Linked DNA regions of Homo sapiens: all the other regions are linked to region 2. The links come from fine-mapping of genetic effects on gene expression. A gene starts in region 2. Each other region holds a variant in brackets. All regions are shown on one strand. Distances are from middle to middle.

Region 1 (4,242 bases), 39 kb before region 2:
TGGAAGTTATATCTTATGATCAAGACTAAAATTTTATAGATTGTTTATAAAATTTTGAGAAACAAATTTAATTGGCTTAATGTTGTTTTTATTAGGGCTTACTGTTTGGGAAATTGAGTCTCCTCTCTCAAAGAATGAAGATTTTCACCTTTTTTTGAAATCCTTGAGTTATCACTTTGGTCAAATGAATGACTTATTTTACAATGACCTGTAATGTCAAATGTTTTAAATCTTTGATATTTGACAAACTTTCCAAAATAAAGATATAAATTATGTCTTTTTCTGACTTAATCCTTTAAGATATTAGGTTCCTTAAAGTTCAAAAATGACATAATTTGCTTATTTGGAATAAACGTTTTGTATATATATATATTATATATATATTATATAAGCATTATATATATAAATAAAATATATGAAACATTGTCAAATATAAAATGGTGTTTAAATTTCTTTGGCCTATGTTTGTAGAAATATGTTATTGGTATGTATTCCAAAATTATGGGAAACTCCTGTAATTCTCATATGAATTAGTGTACATTATTAGTAATAATTATAATTATGTTAAATTATCATGTGCCACAAAGGTAACAACTTTCCCTGTCTATTGACTATGACTATGACTATAGTCTTTGACTATGGTTGCCCTAAAACATTTTGTCATCCATGGACAATTGTCTTGTTTTGGTCCTCTTTAAAAGGTAGTTTTCTAATCAGCTATAAAATTCTAACAGGTACTCTTGAATACAAGTTTCTGATAACTTTGGATATTGTGACATTGGAATAGAAGAAAAACTTTTAGGACTTATGGAGAACTGAAATGTTCATGACTATCAAGCAGAACAGGAATTAACTACATGGGGTGAACTAATAGAAGACTAAAGTAATCTTTTTCACTTATGCTTAAAATGTTTCTGATTCTTTGTTTTGTTTTTTCGGTGGCAAATAAACTTTTCTTTTGAGCTACTGACAGCTTTTAACAATTTAATATACTCCTATGAACAAAATTTAGAATATATTTGTTTCTCTCTACCTGATTTATCCAGAATTTGAAAACTATTTGTGAGTATCTTTAACTCATGTCAATACAGTTATTTGCATAAGTTCAATAAGAATCTGTTTTTATTTATAACAGGGCACAATAAGGGAAACTGGTTATTTTATGAAGGCTTTGGCTGGAATGGTGTGCTTTCCTTTAAGGAATCAAACTTGACTTATGGAGCCAATAAAAGCTACTTGGGAAAACTGGCCTCATACCTTGTCTACACAGTCCCTGTACAGGATTCCTGATGTGTGGTAAGTAAAGCATGTCACTTTCTGACAGGCCCAGGAGCCCCAAGTTTATCTTGGAATCTCAAGAGTAAAAGAATTCACCCAACTCATAGGTACTTGATGCTACAAACCCATGGCTGGGCTTGGCTTTAAAAAAGTCTTATTTGAGACTCCTTCTATAGAACAAAGTTCCATCAAAGCCAATTTAAAAGCCTGTGTAAAAAAATTATTCTTTCTGCACTTTATACACATAATTAGGCCAAGTATAATAAAGCAAATTAATCCTACCATGATTTGTCTTTAGTAAAAGTGGGAAACTGGAGAGAGAAAAATTCTATTTCAAAAACTATAGTACAACTGTTGTTAGAGTCTAGTCTTGCCTAATGTTTTTCCATTTTTATTATTTTCTACAATTAGGACTGAATTCTAATGTTTCTGGGCTATAAGTCTTCAAAATGTTTTCAGTTTTTTTTCTTCTTTTTCCCCCATTTTTCCTAATTTGGAGTCATTGAAAACTAAGCTGTACTTTCATAAAGCCCTGTGAACTGAAGCTAGACAA[C/G]TTAAACTTTAGAAGAAAATAACAGCAACCTATTTACATACATAACCCACTTTCATACCTGCCTACTAACATATAGACTTCAGAGTAATGTGGTCTATATCAATTCTCCAGGATTGTTCTTTTGTTATTGTTGCTTTTCTCCCTTTCTCTCCCTATTTTCCCTTCATAGAACATGAGACTTCACAATCTGCCAAAAATGAATTTTCCTAATAACTCAGGACCTACCCATCTAGGAATAAACCATCCTAGCCATGAGAGATCAGATAAAACCTGAGGACAAAGACTAATTTTCTTCTAATATGCTTTCTCCAAAAGATTTTGAGAAATAAAAAGGAGAAAATGTGAAAGGAAAATAAATCTTGAGGCTGCAAAATCACTAAGCTAAAGAGAAAAGTAAAGCTGAGAACTGCTTAGGGCAAACCTGCCTTCCATTCAATTCAAAGTCACCCTCTGCTCACTGAGATAAATGCATATCAGATTGCCTCCTTTTAAGAGGCTAATCAGAAACTCAAAAGAATGCAACCATTTGTCTCTTATCTGCCTATGACCTGGAGGGTCCCTCCCTGATTTGAGATGTCCCGCCTTTTCAGACCAAACCAATGTTTCATCTTACATATGCTGAATGATGTCTCATGTCTCCCTAAAATGTATAAAACCAAACTGTGCCACCTTGGGCACATGTTGTCAGGACCTCCTGAGGCTGTGTCATGGGTATGCATCCTCAACTGTGGCAAAATAAACTTCACTTTCATCACTGTAAAGATTAAGCAGAAAGTCAACAAAAAAAAATCAGATCTAAACTACACCATAGACCAAATGCACCTAACAGACATTAACAGAACTTTTTATCCAACATCTGCAAAATACACATTCTTCTCAGCACATAGAACATTCTCCAGGATAGACCACAGGTTAGGCCACAAAAAAAAAAAACTCAATACTTTTTAAAAATCAAAACCATATCAAGTATCTTCTCAGATCACAAAGGAATAAAACTAGAAATCAACATAAAAAAAATTTTTGGAATCTGTAAAAACACATCAAAAAAGTAAAAAGATTTCAATTAAACAATCTAACAATTCACCGCAAGGAACTAGAAAAGGAAGAACCAACCAATCCAAATATGAGTAGTAGGAAATAAATAATAAGGATCAGAGTAGAACTAAACAAAATAGAGACAAAAACAAACAATACAACAAAATAAAACATTTATTTTTTTGAAATAACAAAATCAACAAGCCATTTTCTAGAGTAACTAAGAAAGAAAAGAGACTGGGCATATTGACTCATGCCTGTAATCCCAGCATTTTGGGAGGCCAAAGTGAAAGGATTGCTTGAAGCCAGGATTTCAAGACCAGCTTAGGCAGTAAAGTGAGACATCCAACTTTGCAAAAACAATTTTTAATCAGCAAGACATAGTGGCTCATGCCTCTAGTCCCAGCTATTCAGGAGGCTGAGGTGGGAGGATCCTTTGAGCCTAGGGGTTCAAGGCTGCAGTGAGAGATGATTGAACCACTACACTCCAGAACGACAGTGAGACCCCATCTCTAAAAAAAAAAGAAAAGAAATAGAAGAACCAAGTAAATAAAAACAGAAACAAAAAAGAGACATTACAACTGATACCATAGAACTACAAATGATCATTGGAGACTATTATGAACAACTACATGCCAACAAATTGAAAGGCCTAGAAGAAATGGATAGATTTTTGGACACATGTAAGCTTCCAAAATTTAACCATGATGAAACAGGAAGCTAGAACAGACTGACAATAAGTAATGAGATCAAAGCAGTAATTAAAAGTTTTCCATCAAGGCTGAAGTGGGAGGATCGCTTGAGCCCAGAAGTTCAAGGCTGCCAGGAGCTACAATCATGCCACTGCATTCCAGCCTGGATGACAGAGCAAGATCCTGTCTCTATTTTCTAAAAAAGAAATCCCATCAAAGAACTCAGGACTGAATGGCTTCACTGTTCAATTCTACCAAATTTTAAGGAAAAACTGATGCAATTCTTCTCCAACTATTTCAAAAAACTGATGAGAAAAAAATCTTTACTAACTCATTCTACGAAGTCAGCATTACACTGATACCAAAACCAGAAAAGGACACACACATACACACACACACACACACCAAAGAAAACTACAGGCTGATATCCATCATACAGGAATGGATCAACATATGCAAATCAATAAATGTGATATATCACATCAACAGAATGAAAAACAACCCATATGATCATCTCAATAAACACAGAAAAAACATCTGATAAAATTCAACATTTCTTCATGATAAAAACTCTAAACAAATATGATACAGAAGGAACACACCCCAATACAATGTCTATATATGACAAATCAACAACTAACATGATATTGAACAGGAAAAAGCTTTTTCTCTAAGAACTGGAAC
Region 2 (4,242 bases):
ATACACAAATACCACACCACACACCACACATACACCACACCACACACACTTCACACACACCACACATCACATGTCACACACATTAGGTACACACCGAACACACACAACACACATTAAATGCCACATACAACACACCACACACATTAAACACACACCCCACACATAAGTCACACACATCACACACACAACACACCATGCGCTAAATACATCACACATACTACACACATGCAAATCACATCACAGACACCACATACGCACCACACCACATACCACACACACGACACATCACATGCCACACATCACCTGTCACACACATCAAACACACACACAATACACCACACACCTCACACACGTCAAACAAACCCCACACACACCATATCACACACACATCACACACACCACACATGCACCATATGCCTCCACACACAGAGACACATACACATCACACACCCTCACACACACACACCCCACATGCCATTTATACCACATGCCACAAACATTACATGCACACAAACCATATACACAATACACAAACCACACACAAACACCACACACCCTACCCTGATACCCTGGTTGACTTATTAGAGATTGGTAAAAAGGAAGGGAAACCAGTCGGTCTGGGAGAAGAGGCCCATACATGATGCCAATGACCCCACCATTTAGAGATCCAAGGAGGAAAATAAAGCACATCTGGTCTGGAGCTTGTAGCAGACGTGCGCCAGCCCCTCACCCCTCCAGGCCCGGTGCACCCCTACATGCCCGGGTGCACCCCTCCAGGCCTGGAACCCCAGCTGCTTGCTTTTCTCCTCAGTGGGAAAAGAGTTTCAGGGCCATGGCCTTCTGGGAAAGGGCCTCTCAGGTCTTACAGTGTGATGGAGGAGGGGAAAGGAGAGGATGAGATGAGATGAGAAGGAGACCCCAGCAGCCCATCAAGTGCACAGATCACCTCAGCCTATGGTGAAGACCTGAAACTAGCCTCATTTTCAGGGAGAATTGATGGAGGCCCAGAGAGGTCAGGACTTGACCCAGGGNCACCTAGCAGAGAAACAGAGCCTGGGAGTGACCCCATAGCAGGACCCAGGGCCGTGCTCAACACCTCTGTGGGTAAGAGGGACCAGTGAAGCTGGGGCTCAAGGCAGGGCCCCCACCTGGGACATGAGAAGAAGTGGCATCTTAGGCCGTTTCACTAGGTACTTCCCACTGGCAAAGTTTTATTGCGGAATCTTTTCGACAGCCTGGCAGGGTCCTGCTATAATTGCTGTCATCTTCCACAGAGAAAGCTGGAGCCTAGAGAGGCTGTGAGGACACAAAACCACACAGAATGAAGAATGTCACACACAGAATGATGCACAGAACACGCACACACTACACACAAACCACACACACAGTAGCAGATGGCAAAACAACAAGAAAACTACATCCCCAGCCCACATCCTCCCTGAACTCCAGACTTCCCTCTCCTGAGCATACGACTGCCTAGGGCAATGCCAAAGGAGCAAGAGCCGCAAGAATGTCCTGGACTTGGCCGGGGAAGGACCTGAGCTGGTCCTGAATGCCCTTCCTGCGGTTTCAGCTTCTCCCAGGGCTCAGGCCCCGGCCTCGCAGTCCTCTCACCTTCTGGATCTGGCCTGGTGACTGTCCTACAGAAGGTGGTTCCCAGTAGAGGCTTAGGGCTGGTATGGGAGAGGCCTTATATAGCAGGTGGCTGTAAAATCAAAAAGCACAGCTGTCTTCTGGGGTGGGACCTCTGGGTCAGACAGGCTAAGGCTTCTGGCTCTCAGACTGTGCCCTGCCCAATAGAGCTACAGGCTGCCCAACCCTTTGGCATCTGTGCAGCTCGTGCCCTCTCTGAGACCTCTAGGAATTGGGAACAACTTTGGTCAAGGCCTGCCTTTGGCAAAATGTAAACAGGAGTAAGGTATCTTCCAGCATTGTCTGTGGCCTTCTAAGTCAATTCCATGACCTGCTAATGACAAGCACCTAACAACCTGCTAACAGTCACCATGATTAGCCCATTTATAGATGAGAAAACCAAAGCACAGAAAGAGAGCCATAAGAGATATGCTCATGGGCACACAGCCGGGGCACAGTCAGAACTCAGAGCTCCGAATCAGACTATGTGGGGTCTGTGCAACTCAGGAAAGGGCCTCAGTTTCCCACAGGCAAGTGTCTTAACCTTGTTAGATTTGAGGGTCCTCCAACCAAGATGAGTGTAAACTCACTGTGCAGCCTCATAGTGTGGTAGAGGGACCATGACGTGAAGCCCCTGCCTGCAGTGTGCTCTGCACACTGGGTGAGAGCCCACAGCAGCCATCGAGAGAGTCTTTCTGGCCAAGTGATCTGAGCAGCTACTGGTAACAGCCCAGGTCAGGTCAACTGAGGCCTCTCTGTATTAGTCAGGTTCTCTGTCCTCTAGAGAAGGTGAGTTTATATATGTATGAAGGGGAGTTCATTAAGGAGTATTGACTCACATGATCACAGGGTGAAGTCCCACAATAGGCTGTCTGTGACCTGAAGACCAAGGAAGCCAGTCTGAGTCCCAAAACCTCAAAAGTGCAGCCTTCAGTCTGTGGCTGATGGCCTGAGAGCCCCTGGCAAACCACTGGTGTAGGCCCAAGAGTCCCAAAGCCGAAGAACTTGGAGTCCGATGTTTGAGGGAAGGAAGCATCCAGCATGGGAGAAAGATGGAGACTGGGAGACTCAGCCAGTCTGGTCCTTCCTCGTTCTGCTGCCTGCTTTTATCCTAGCTGTGTTGGCAGTTGATTAGATGATGTCCACCCAGATGTAGGCTGGGAGGCTAGGCCAGTCTAGCCTTTTGACATTTTTCTGCCTGCTTTATATTCTAGCAGAGCTGGCAGCTGATCAGATGGTGCCCACCCAGACTGAGGGTGGCTCTGCCTCTGCCAGTCCACGGACTCGAGTGTTAATCTCCTTTGGCAACACCCTCACAGACACATCCAGGAACAATACTTTGCAATACTTTTCAATCCAATCATGTTGACACTCAATATTAACCCTCACACTCTCCCAGTCTCCTCACACTGTGCCATGGGTGCTCCTGGTTTTGAGTGTGGACTTGAGTTATCTTCCCTCCTCATCTTTCCACTGTGCTGACACTTTATACACACACGGTGGGGAGTGGGAGGAGCCCACTCAGCCGAGGATGCAGAGGTTGAGGGGCACACATCATACCAGTATCCCCCAGCCTGCATTTAAACCTTGCAGTTCCCTGCTCTTGAAAATACCCCTTGGGGATGGCTACGCTACCTGTGTCTCAGCTCTCTCTTCCTTCCCCAAACTCATGCATTCATTCAACAAACATTTTTTGAGCACCCTCCCTGTCTTAGGCCTACTGTAGGAAACCGGGAGGTATTTGTGAGCAAAAAGACAAAGACCTTTGCCCTCCTGGAGTGTAGTCTAGAGAGGACTACAGACAACATAAATTAAAGTGGTAAATAAGCAAATCACAGGGAAAGTCAGAATGTGGTGACTGCTCTGGCAAAAAGACAAAGAGTAGGATAAGTCATCAACCATGCTAGGGGGTGAGCAGGTGCAGGCTTCCACTTTCAATGAGGAGGTTGTAGTAGGTCTCATGGAGAAGACAAAATCTGAGTTATTTTTATAAGCAGAGACTCTGGCCATCTCTTATTCTCTCCTCTCCTCACCATCTGCCTTCAGGCTGCTTATCACAGCATTTTCCTAAAAAAAAAAAAAAGCAGCTTCCTCCCTAACAGAACCATATTGTTTCCCAGCACACATTAGTCAGTCACCTGGCAGGGCACAACAAGAGAAGTGGCACAGTAATATCCAATGGGGTGTGTGTGGGCTTGCGGGTTTCAGGAATGTGGCCTCCCTGAGCCACCGATGGAGGATCCAAAGAGCTCATGAACACTGCCTCTGAGATAACAGCTCTGGTGTCAGGCTGAGTACTGGCATGAGAAAATCGGGCTGATCAATGTTAATTCCTCTCAGAAGGCACCAGATACTCAGGCAAATGGACCCAAAGCGACCACAAAGATCTGAGTCTGAATCCAGACTTTGTCCCTCACATCACATAAGTTACTTATTAACCGCACTTGTTGGGCCAGAGCTCTTTGTCTTTAAAATGGAATCATCAGGCCCTGAAGAAATGCCTCCTGATGATTTATTTACTCCTGGAATCATCACCCCATTCCTCTGTGTTTTTCCAAGGCCATCTATCTATCAATAATGTCCTGAGGACGTCTAACCATGTGGGAATTA
Region 3 (4,242 bases), 38 kb after region 2:
TCCCAGTCAGGGGACAAACTTCTGTCAACCTACATTGACAGAGAGGGAGACTCTCTAACGAAAATGATGTTTATTTAGGAATAGAATTGCAATGGGAATATATGTGCCATAGAAAACTATGTGTGTATTCAGGGAGGTAACAGAAGACAGTGGTTTTTAAAGGAAAAATAAGGAGGATTACATAATTGTTTTGAGATAACTGTCCTTGGCTATAAGAATCAAATAATAAAGGTGGTGCCAGTCTGAGGTTGGACAAGCAGTTGCTGGGCAGATGTCCTCGCAGAATTATATTTTTGTGTAAGGCTGTGATGGTCTTTGTGCAAGGCTGTGGTTTTTGCAGAGCTTTTTGTGATAGTTCCTGTTATCAGGCATTCGTGCGTGAGAACCCTCTGTTCACGGCCTTTTCTGGCTCTTTTTGTCGGAGCTTTGTTAACAAGGGACTTGTTTTGATTCTGATAACTTTCACACTTTCTGGAGCAGAAAGTTAGCATGTCTCATCCTACCCCCAGTTTCTTCCTACTGAAGATAATAAATTCCAGGTGAGTATGGCTGACAAGTGAAGACTCCCTTCTTCCTTGCCTCTCCTAGTCATGGGATACAGGCTCGACCTTGAGAATACTGCACATACTGCAAATACTGAGGCCCCAATCACCACTGCCCTAGTTCACTGGCAGCAGTCCCATGCCAATAAAGGCCAACCTGAGAAATTCTAGGGCTGCTGCACACCATTCTACCAAGTGCTCAGCTCCTAAAGTAGAGGCGTCACTCAGGAGAAGCATGCCATTTTCTCCAGAGCCATGGCTCAGAGATTTTACCCAGGGGCAGAAGCAGGCATAGAACAGAGAGCTCCAGCTTTCTACTCAAAGGAACAGACCTCACTTATAACTGAGTCTGAAGTTCAAGTCTAAGAGTCCTCTAAATATAGGGGGAATAAAACAGTGGCGGTTGCGGTGAAAGGCGATTGGGAAGCAATTAGTAGATTCATTGACGATTGCTATGGACTGAATGCTTGTGTTCCCCCAAAATTCATATGTTGAAATTATAACCCCCAATGTGATGATATTAGGAGATGGGGCCTTCGGAAGGTCATTAGATCATGAGGGTGGAGCCCTCATGAATGGAATTAGTGACCTTATAAAAGGGACCCCAGAGAGCTCTCTCACCTTCTTTCCACCATGTGAAGATACAATGAGAAGTCAACAGTCTGCAACCTGAAGAGGGCCTTCACCAGAACCTGACCATGCTGGCATCCTGATCTTGGACTTTCAGTGTCCAGAACCGTGAGAAATAAATTTCTTTTGTCTATAAGCCACCTAGTTTATAATATTTTGTAATAGCACACCAAGCTGACTAAGACAGAAATATAGGCTAAACTGTAGGCCGGCTGGTTTGCCAGAGAGAAACAAGACACCAGACAACTACAAAGAGCCCTCCTGGAGTCAGAACATGTTTCAGTGACTTTGGTAACTGTCCCTACAAAGGAGCCTGAATTTGATTAGCTAAGCCTATAGGGCAATGGATGCCCAGAGCATTGTTGAAAACAGCTGAGCAATCAGCCTGCAATTAGAGAGCTTAACAGCTGAGTAAGTTCAGGAATAGATAGTCAAAAAGAAATCTGCCAAAACCACCATCATCCCACAATGACTGTGGGCATACCAAAGGTTGTGTCCTGTGAGGAGCAACATTAGAGGCTTAGAGGCTTCCCACTGCAGGGGGTGGGGAAGAATGAGTGTGGTAGTGGGAGAATAGGCTTCAGGAAAATAATCCAGCTAATCACTACACAAATAAGCAGGCAAATAACAATAACAAGCCCACCTGAGGTGGCGGGCACACCCGGAGTTGCTTCAGTACGTGATCTAAAATGTCCAGTTTCCAACAAACGTTATGAGACATGCAAAGAAACAGAAAATATGGCCCATAAACTAAAGAAAAATCAGGAAACAGAAACTGCCTCTATGAATGATATATTAGTCAGGATTGTCCAGGAAAACAGAATCAACAGGATGTTTAGAGACAGAGAGAGAGAGAGAGAGAGAGAGAGAGAGGTTCATTTTAAAGGATTTCTTCATGCAGTTGTGGGGGCTTGGCAAGTTCAAATGTGCAGAGTAGGCTGGCAGGGCTGAAAATCCAGGGAAGACTTGTAATTTGAGTCCAAAGGCAGTCTTCTGGCAAAAGTCTTCCTTCTTCCAAGGAGGTTAGTCTTTTTCTATAAAGGCTTTCCACTGATTTGAGGAGGCCCAC[C/A]CATATCATAATGGGTAATCTGCTGTACTCAGTCTACAGATTTAAATATTAGTCTCATCCAATATATAACTTCACAGAAATTTCTAGAATAATATTTGACAAAATATTTGGATACCGTGTGGCCTAAGTTGACACATAAAATTCACCTTCACAAGTTACCAGATGTCAGATTTAACAAAGTTTCATGGCTCACACCTGTAATCCCAACACTTTGGGGGGCCAAGGAGAGTGGATCACCTGAGGTCAGGAGTTCGAGAACAGTCTGGCCAACATGAAGAAACCCCGTCTCTATTAAAAATACAAAATTTAGCCAGGCGTGGTGGCCCATGCCTGTAATCCCAGCTACTCAGGAGACTGAAGCAGGAGAATTGCTTGAACCCAGGAGGCAGAGGTTGTGGTAAGCCGAGATCACACCATTGTACTCCAGCTTGGGAAAAGATTGCGAAACTCCATCTCAAAAAAAAAAAAAAAAGTCTTCAAAGTAGTTCAAAGAACTAAAGGAAACTTGATTAAACAACTAAAGGAAGGTATGATGATAATATCACATCAGATAGAGAATATCAATAGATAGAAATTATTTTTTAAATGTAAATTCTGGAGTTGAAAAGTACAATAGCTGAAATAAAAAATTTAGCAGAGTTCAACATTGGACTTGAATTTGCAGAAGAAAGAACAAACTTGAAGATTGACTGATAGAGATTTTACAATCTTAATAACTGGCAGAATAAAGGATATAAAAATGAACAGAGCAACAGGGGGGAAGTCCCAAAAGAAAAAAAGAGAGAGAGAAGGAAGAGAAAGAAGCAGCAAAAAATATTCAAAGAAATAATGACTAAAAACTTCCTAAATTTATTGAAAAACATTACATATACAGGAAACTCTCTCAACAAACTGTCTCTTACTTGGGTTTCCAAACTGCTGGTCTACCCTACACATTTTGGACTTTGGAATATTATTACAAATTTTTTTAAAAATCAATAGTTTGGAGCTCTTTGCAGAATGTTTATGATGGGTAGCCTGCAAAAACTTCACCCTAAGATTTCCTCTAACTTTAATTGGTAGATGTTAGAAAACGTTACTTAAATACTATTAGAAGTTTTCTGCATCAGCAAACCTGAGACTTCTTTGTTCTGTGACAGCTGCTACAATGGTTGCTTCAGGGAAAATGAGTAAAGAAACTCTCATTGAGTGGTCCCCTTCTCCTATTAGGGTGGCACTGTGTGAGTTGGTGAGAGGGCCTTTCTCACTGCCTTTTCCCAGAATTTCTCTGTAAGCTAATGACCAGGTATCTAAGCAGGAGTTTCCCTTGTAAAGCAATGGGCATAGAAGGTCACTACATGTGACTGGCTTTAAGGGCAGAGAGCTTGCTGGGGAAGGTGGAGGAGAAAACAGAATGTGACAAGGGGTCTTCTGTGGGGGCATATGTTAAGTTCTACATCCTATACCCCAGGAGTAGCCAATGTATCAGAAGCTGCATGTCAAAGTCTGGAGTTTCACTGATGAGTGACTCTGCTTTACTGATACCAGGGTGTCATTGCGTCTAAACCCTCTCAGCTTACTGATCAAGGAGATATATGAGTGTGCATTAACACTTATGTATACACATATTTATAAATATTTGTATATGTAACTCTCTATCCATATTAAGCTAAACATTAATTCATACCACTGTCTCCAATTTTAATCCATTAACATGTGAGTCCTTCTAGCCCCCTCCCCTTGTTTATCTGTAACCTGGCTTTCACTATCTGCCATCCATTTACTTAATTGTTGAATTCTAGCATACATGTATAGCAGTATCAGAATTGTTACCTCCATGGGAAACAACTTTATTTACTGGAGTTCAGTGCTTATGAACAGTTTCTTTTGCCTTTTGTCTTACAGATTCTACTAATTTCCAAATTTGCTTAGGGGTCAGGTGCAGTGACTCACACCTGTAATCCCAGCACTTTGAGAGGCCAAGGCGGGAGGATTGCTTGAGCCCAGGAATTTGAGACCAGC

Which allele goes with the higher level. Alleles are on the strand shown, and positions count from the first base shown. SD is a standard deviation of normalised expression in the study named. Not every link is listed here.
With allele C in place of G in region 1, the expression in whole blood of the gene that starts at base 1,669 in region 2 is higher (moderate effect, 0.63 SD a copy in GTEx).

The links. PIP is the estimated chance that this variant, and not a neighbour inherited with it, causes the effect.
Region 1: its variant is the best candidate, but not a certain one, in a credible set for the expression of LYPD8 in whole blood (GTEx, PIP 0.70).
Region 3: its variant is the best candidate, but not a certain one, in a credible set for the expression of LYPD8 in whole blood (TOPMed, PIP 0.72).

Annotation. Positions count from the first base shown.
Region 1 is chr1:248,715,430-248,719,671 of GRCh38, forward strand. No RefSeq gene overlaps it. Among named protein-coding and RNA genes, the nearest start is that of OR14I1, 15 kb to the left of the region's middle. The variant C/G (reference allele first, on the strand shown) is at 1,832.
Region 2 is chr1:248,754,091-248,758,332 of GRCh38, forward strand. LYPD8 (LY6/PLAUR domain containing 8) reads right to left here and starts at 1,669. Exons shown (of 7, transcript NM_001085474.2): 1 at 1,615-1,669; 2 at 1,149-1,296.
Region 3 is chr1:248,792,202-248,796,443 of GRCh38, forward strand. No RefSeq gene overlaps it. Among named protein-coding and RNA genes, the nearest start is that of SH3BP5L, 32 kb to the right of the region's middle. RefSeq lists a silencer at 1,374-1,463. The variant C/A (reference allele first, on the strand shown) is at 2,242.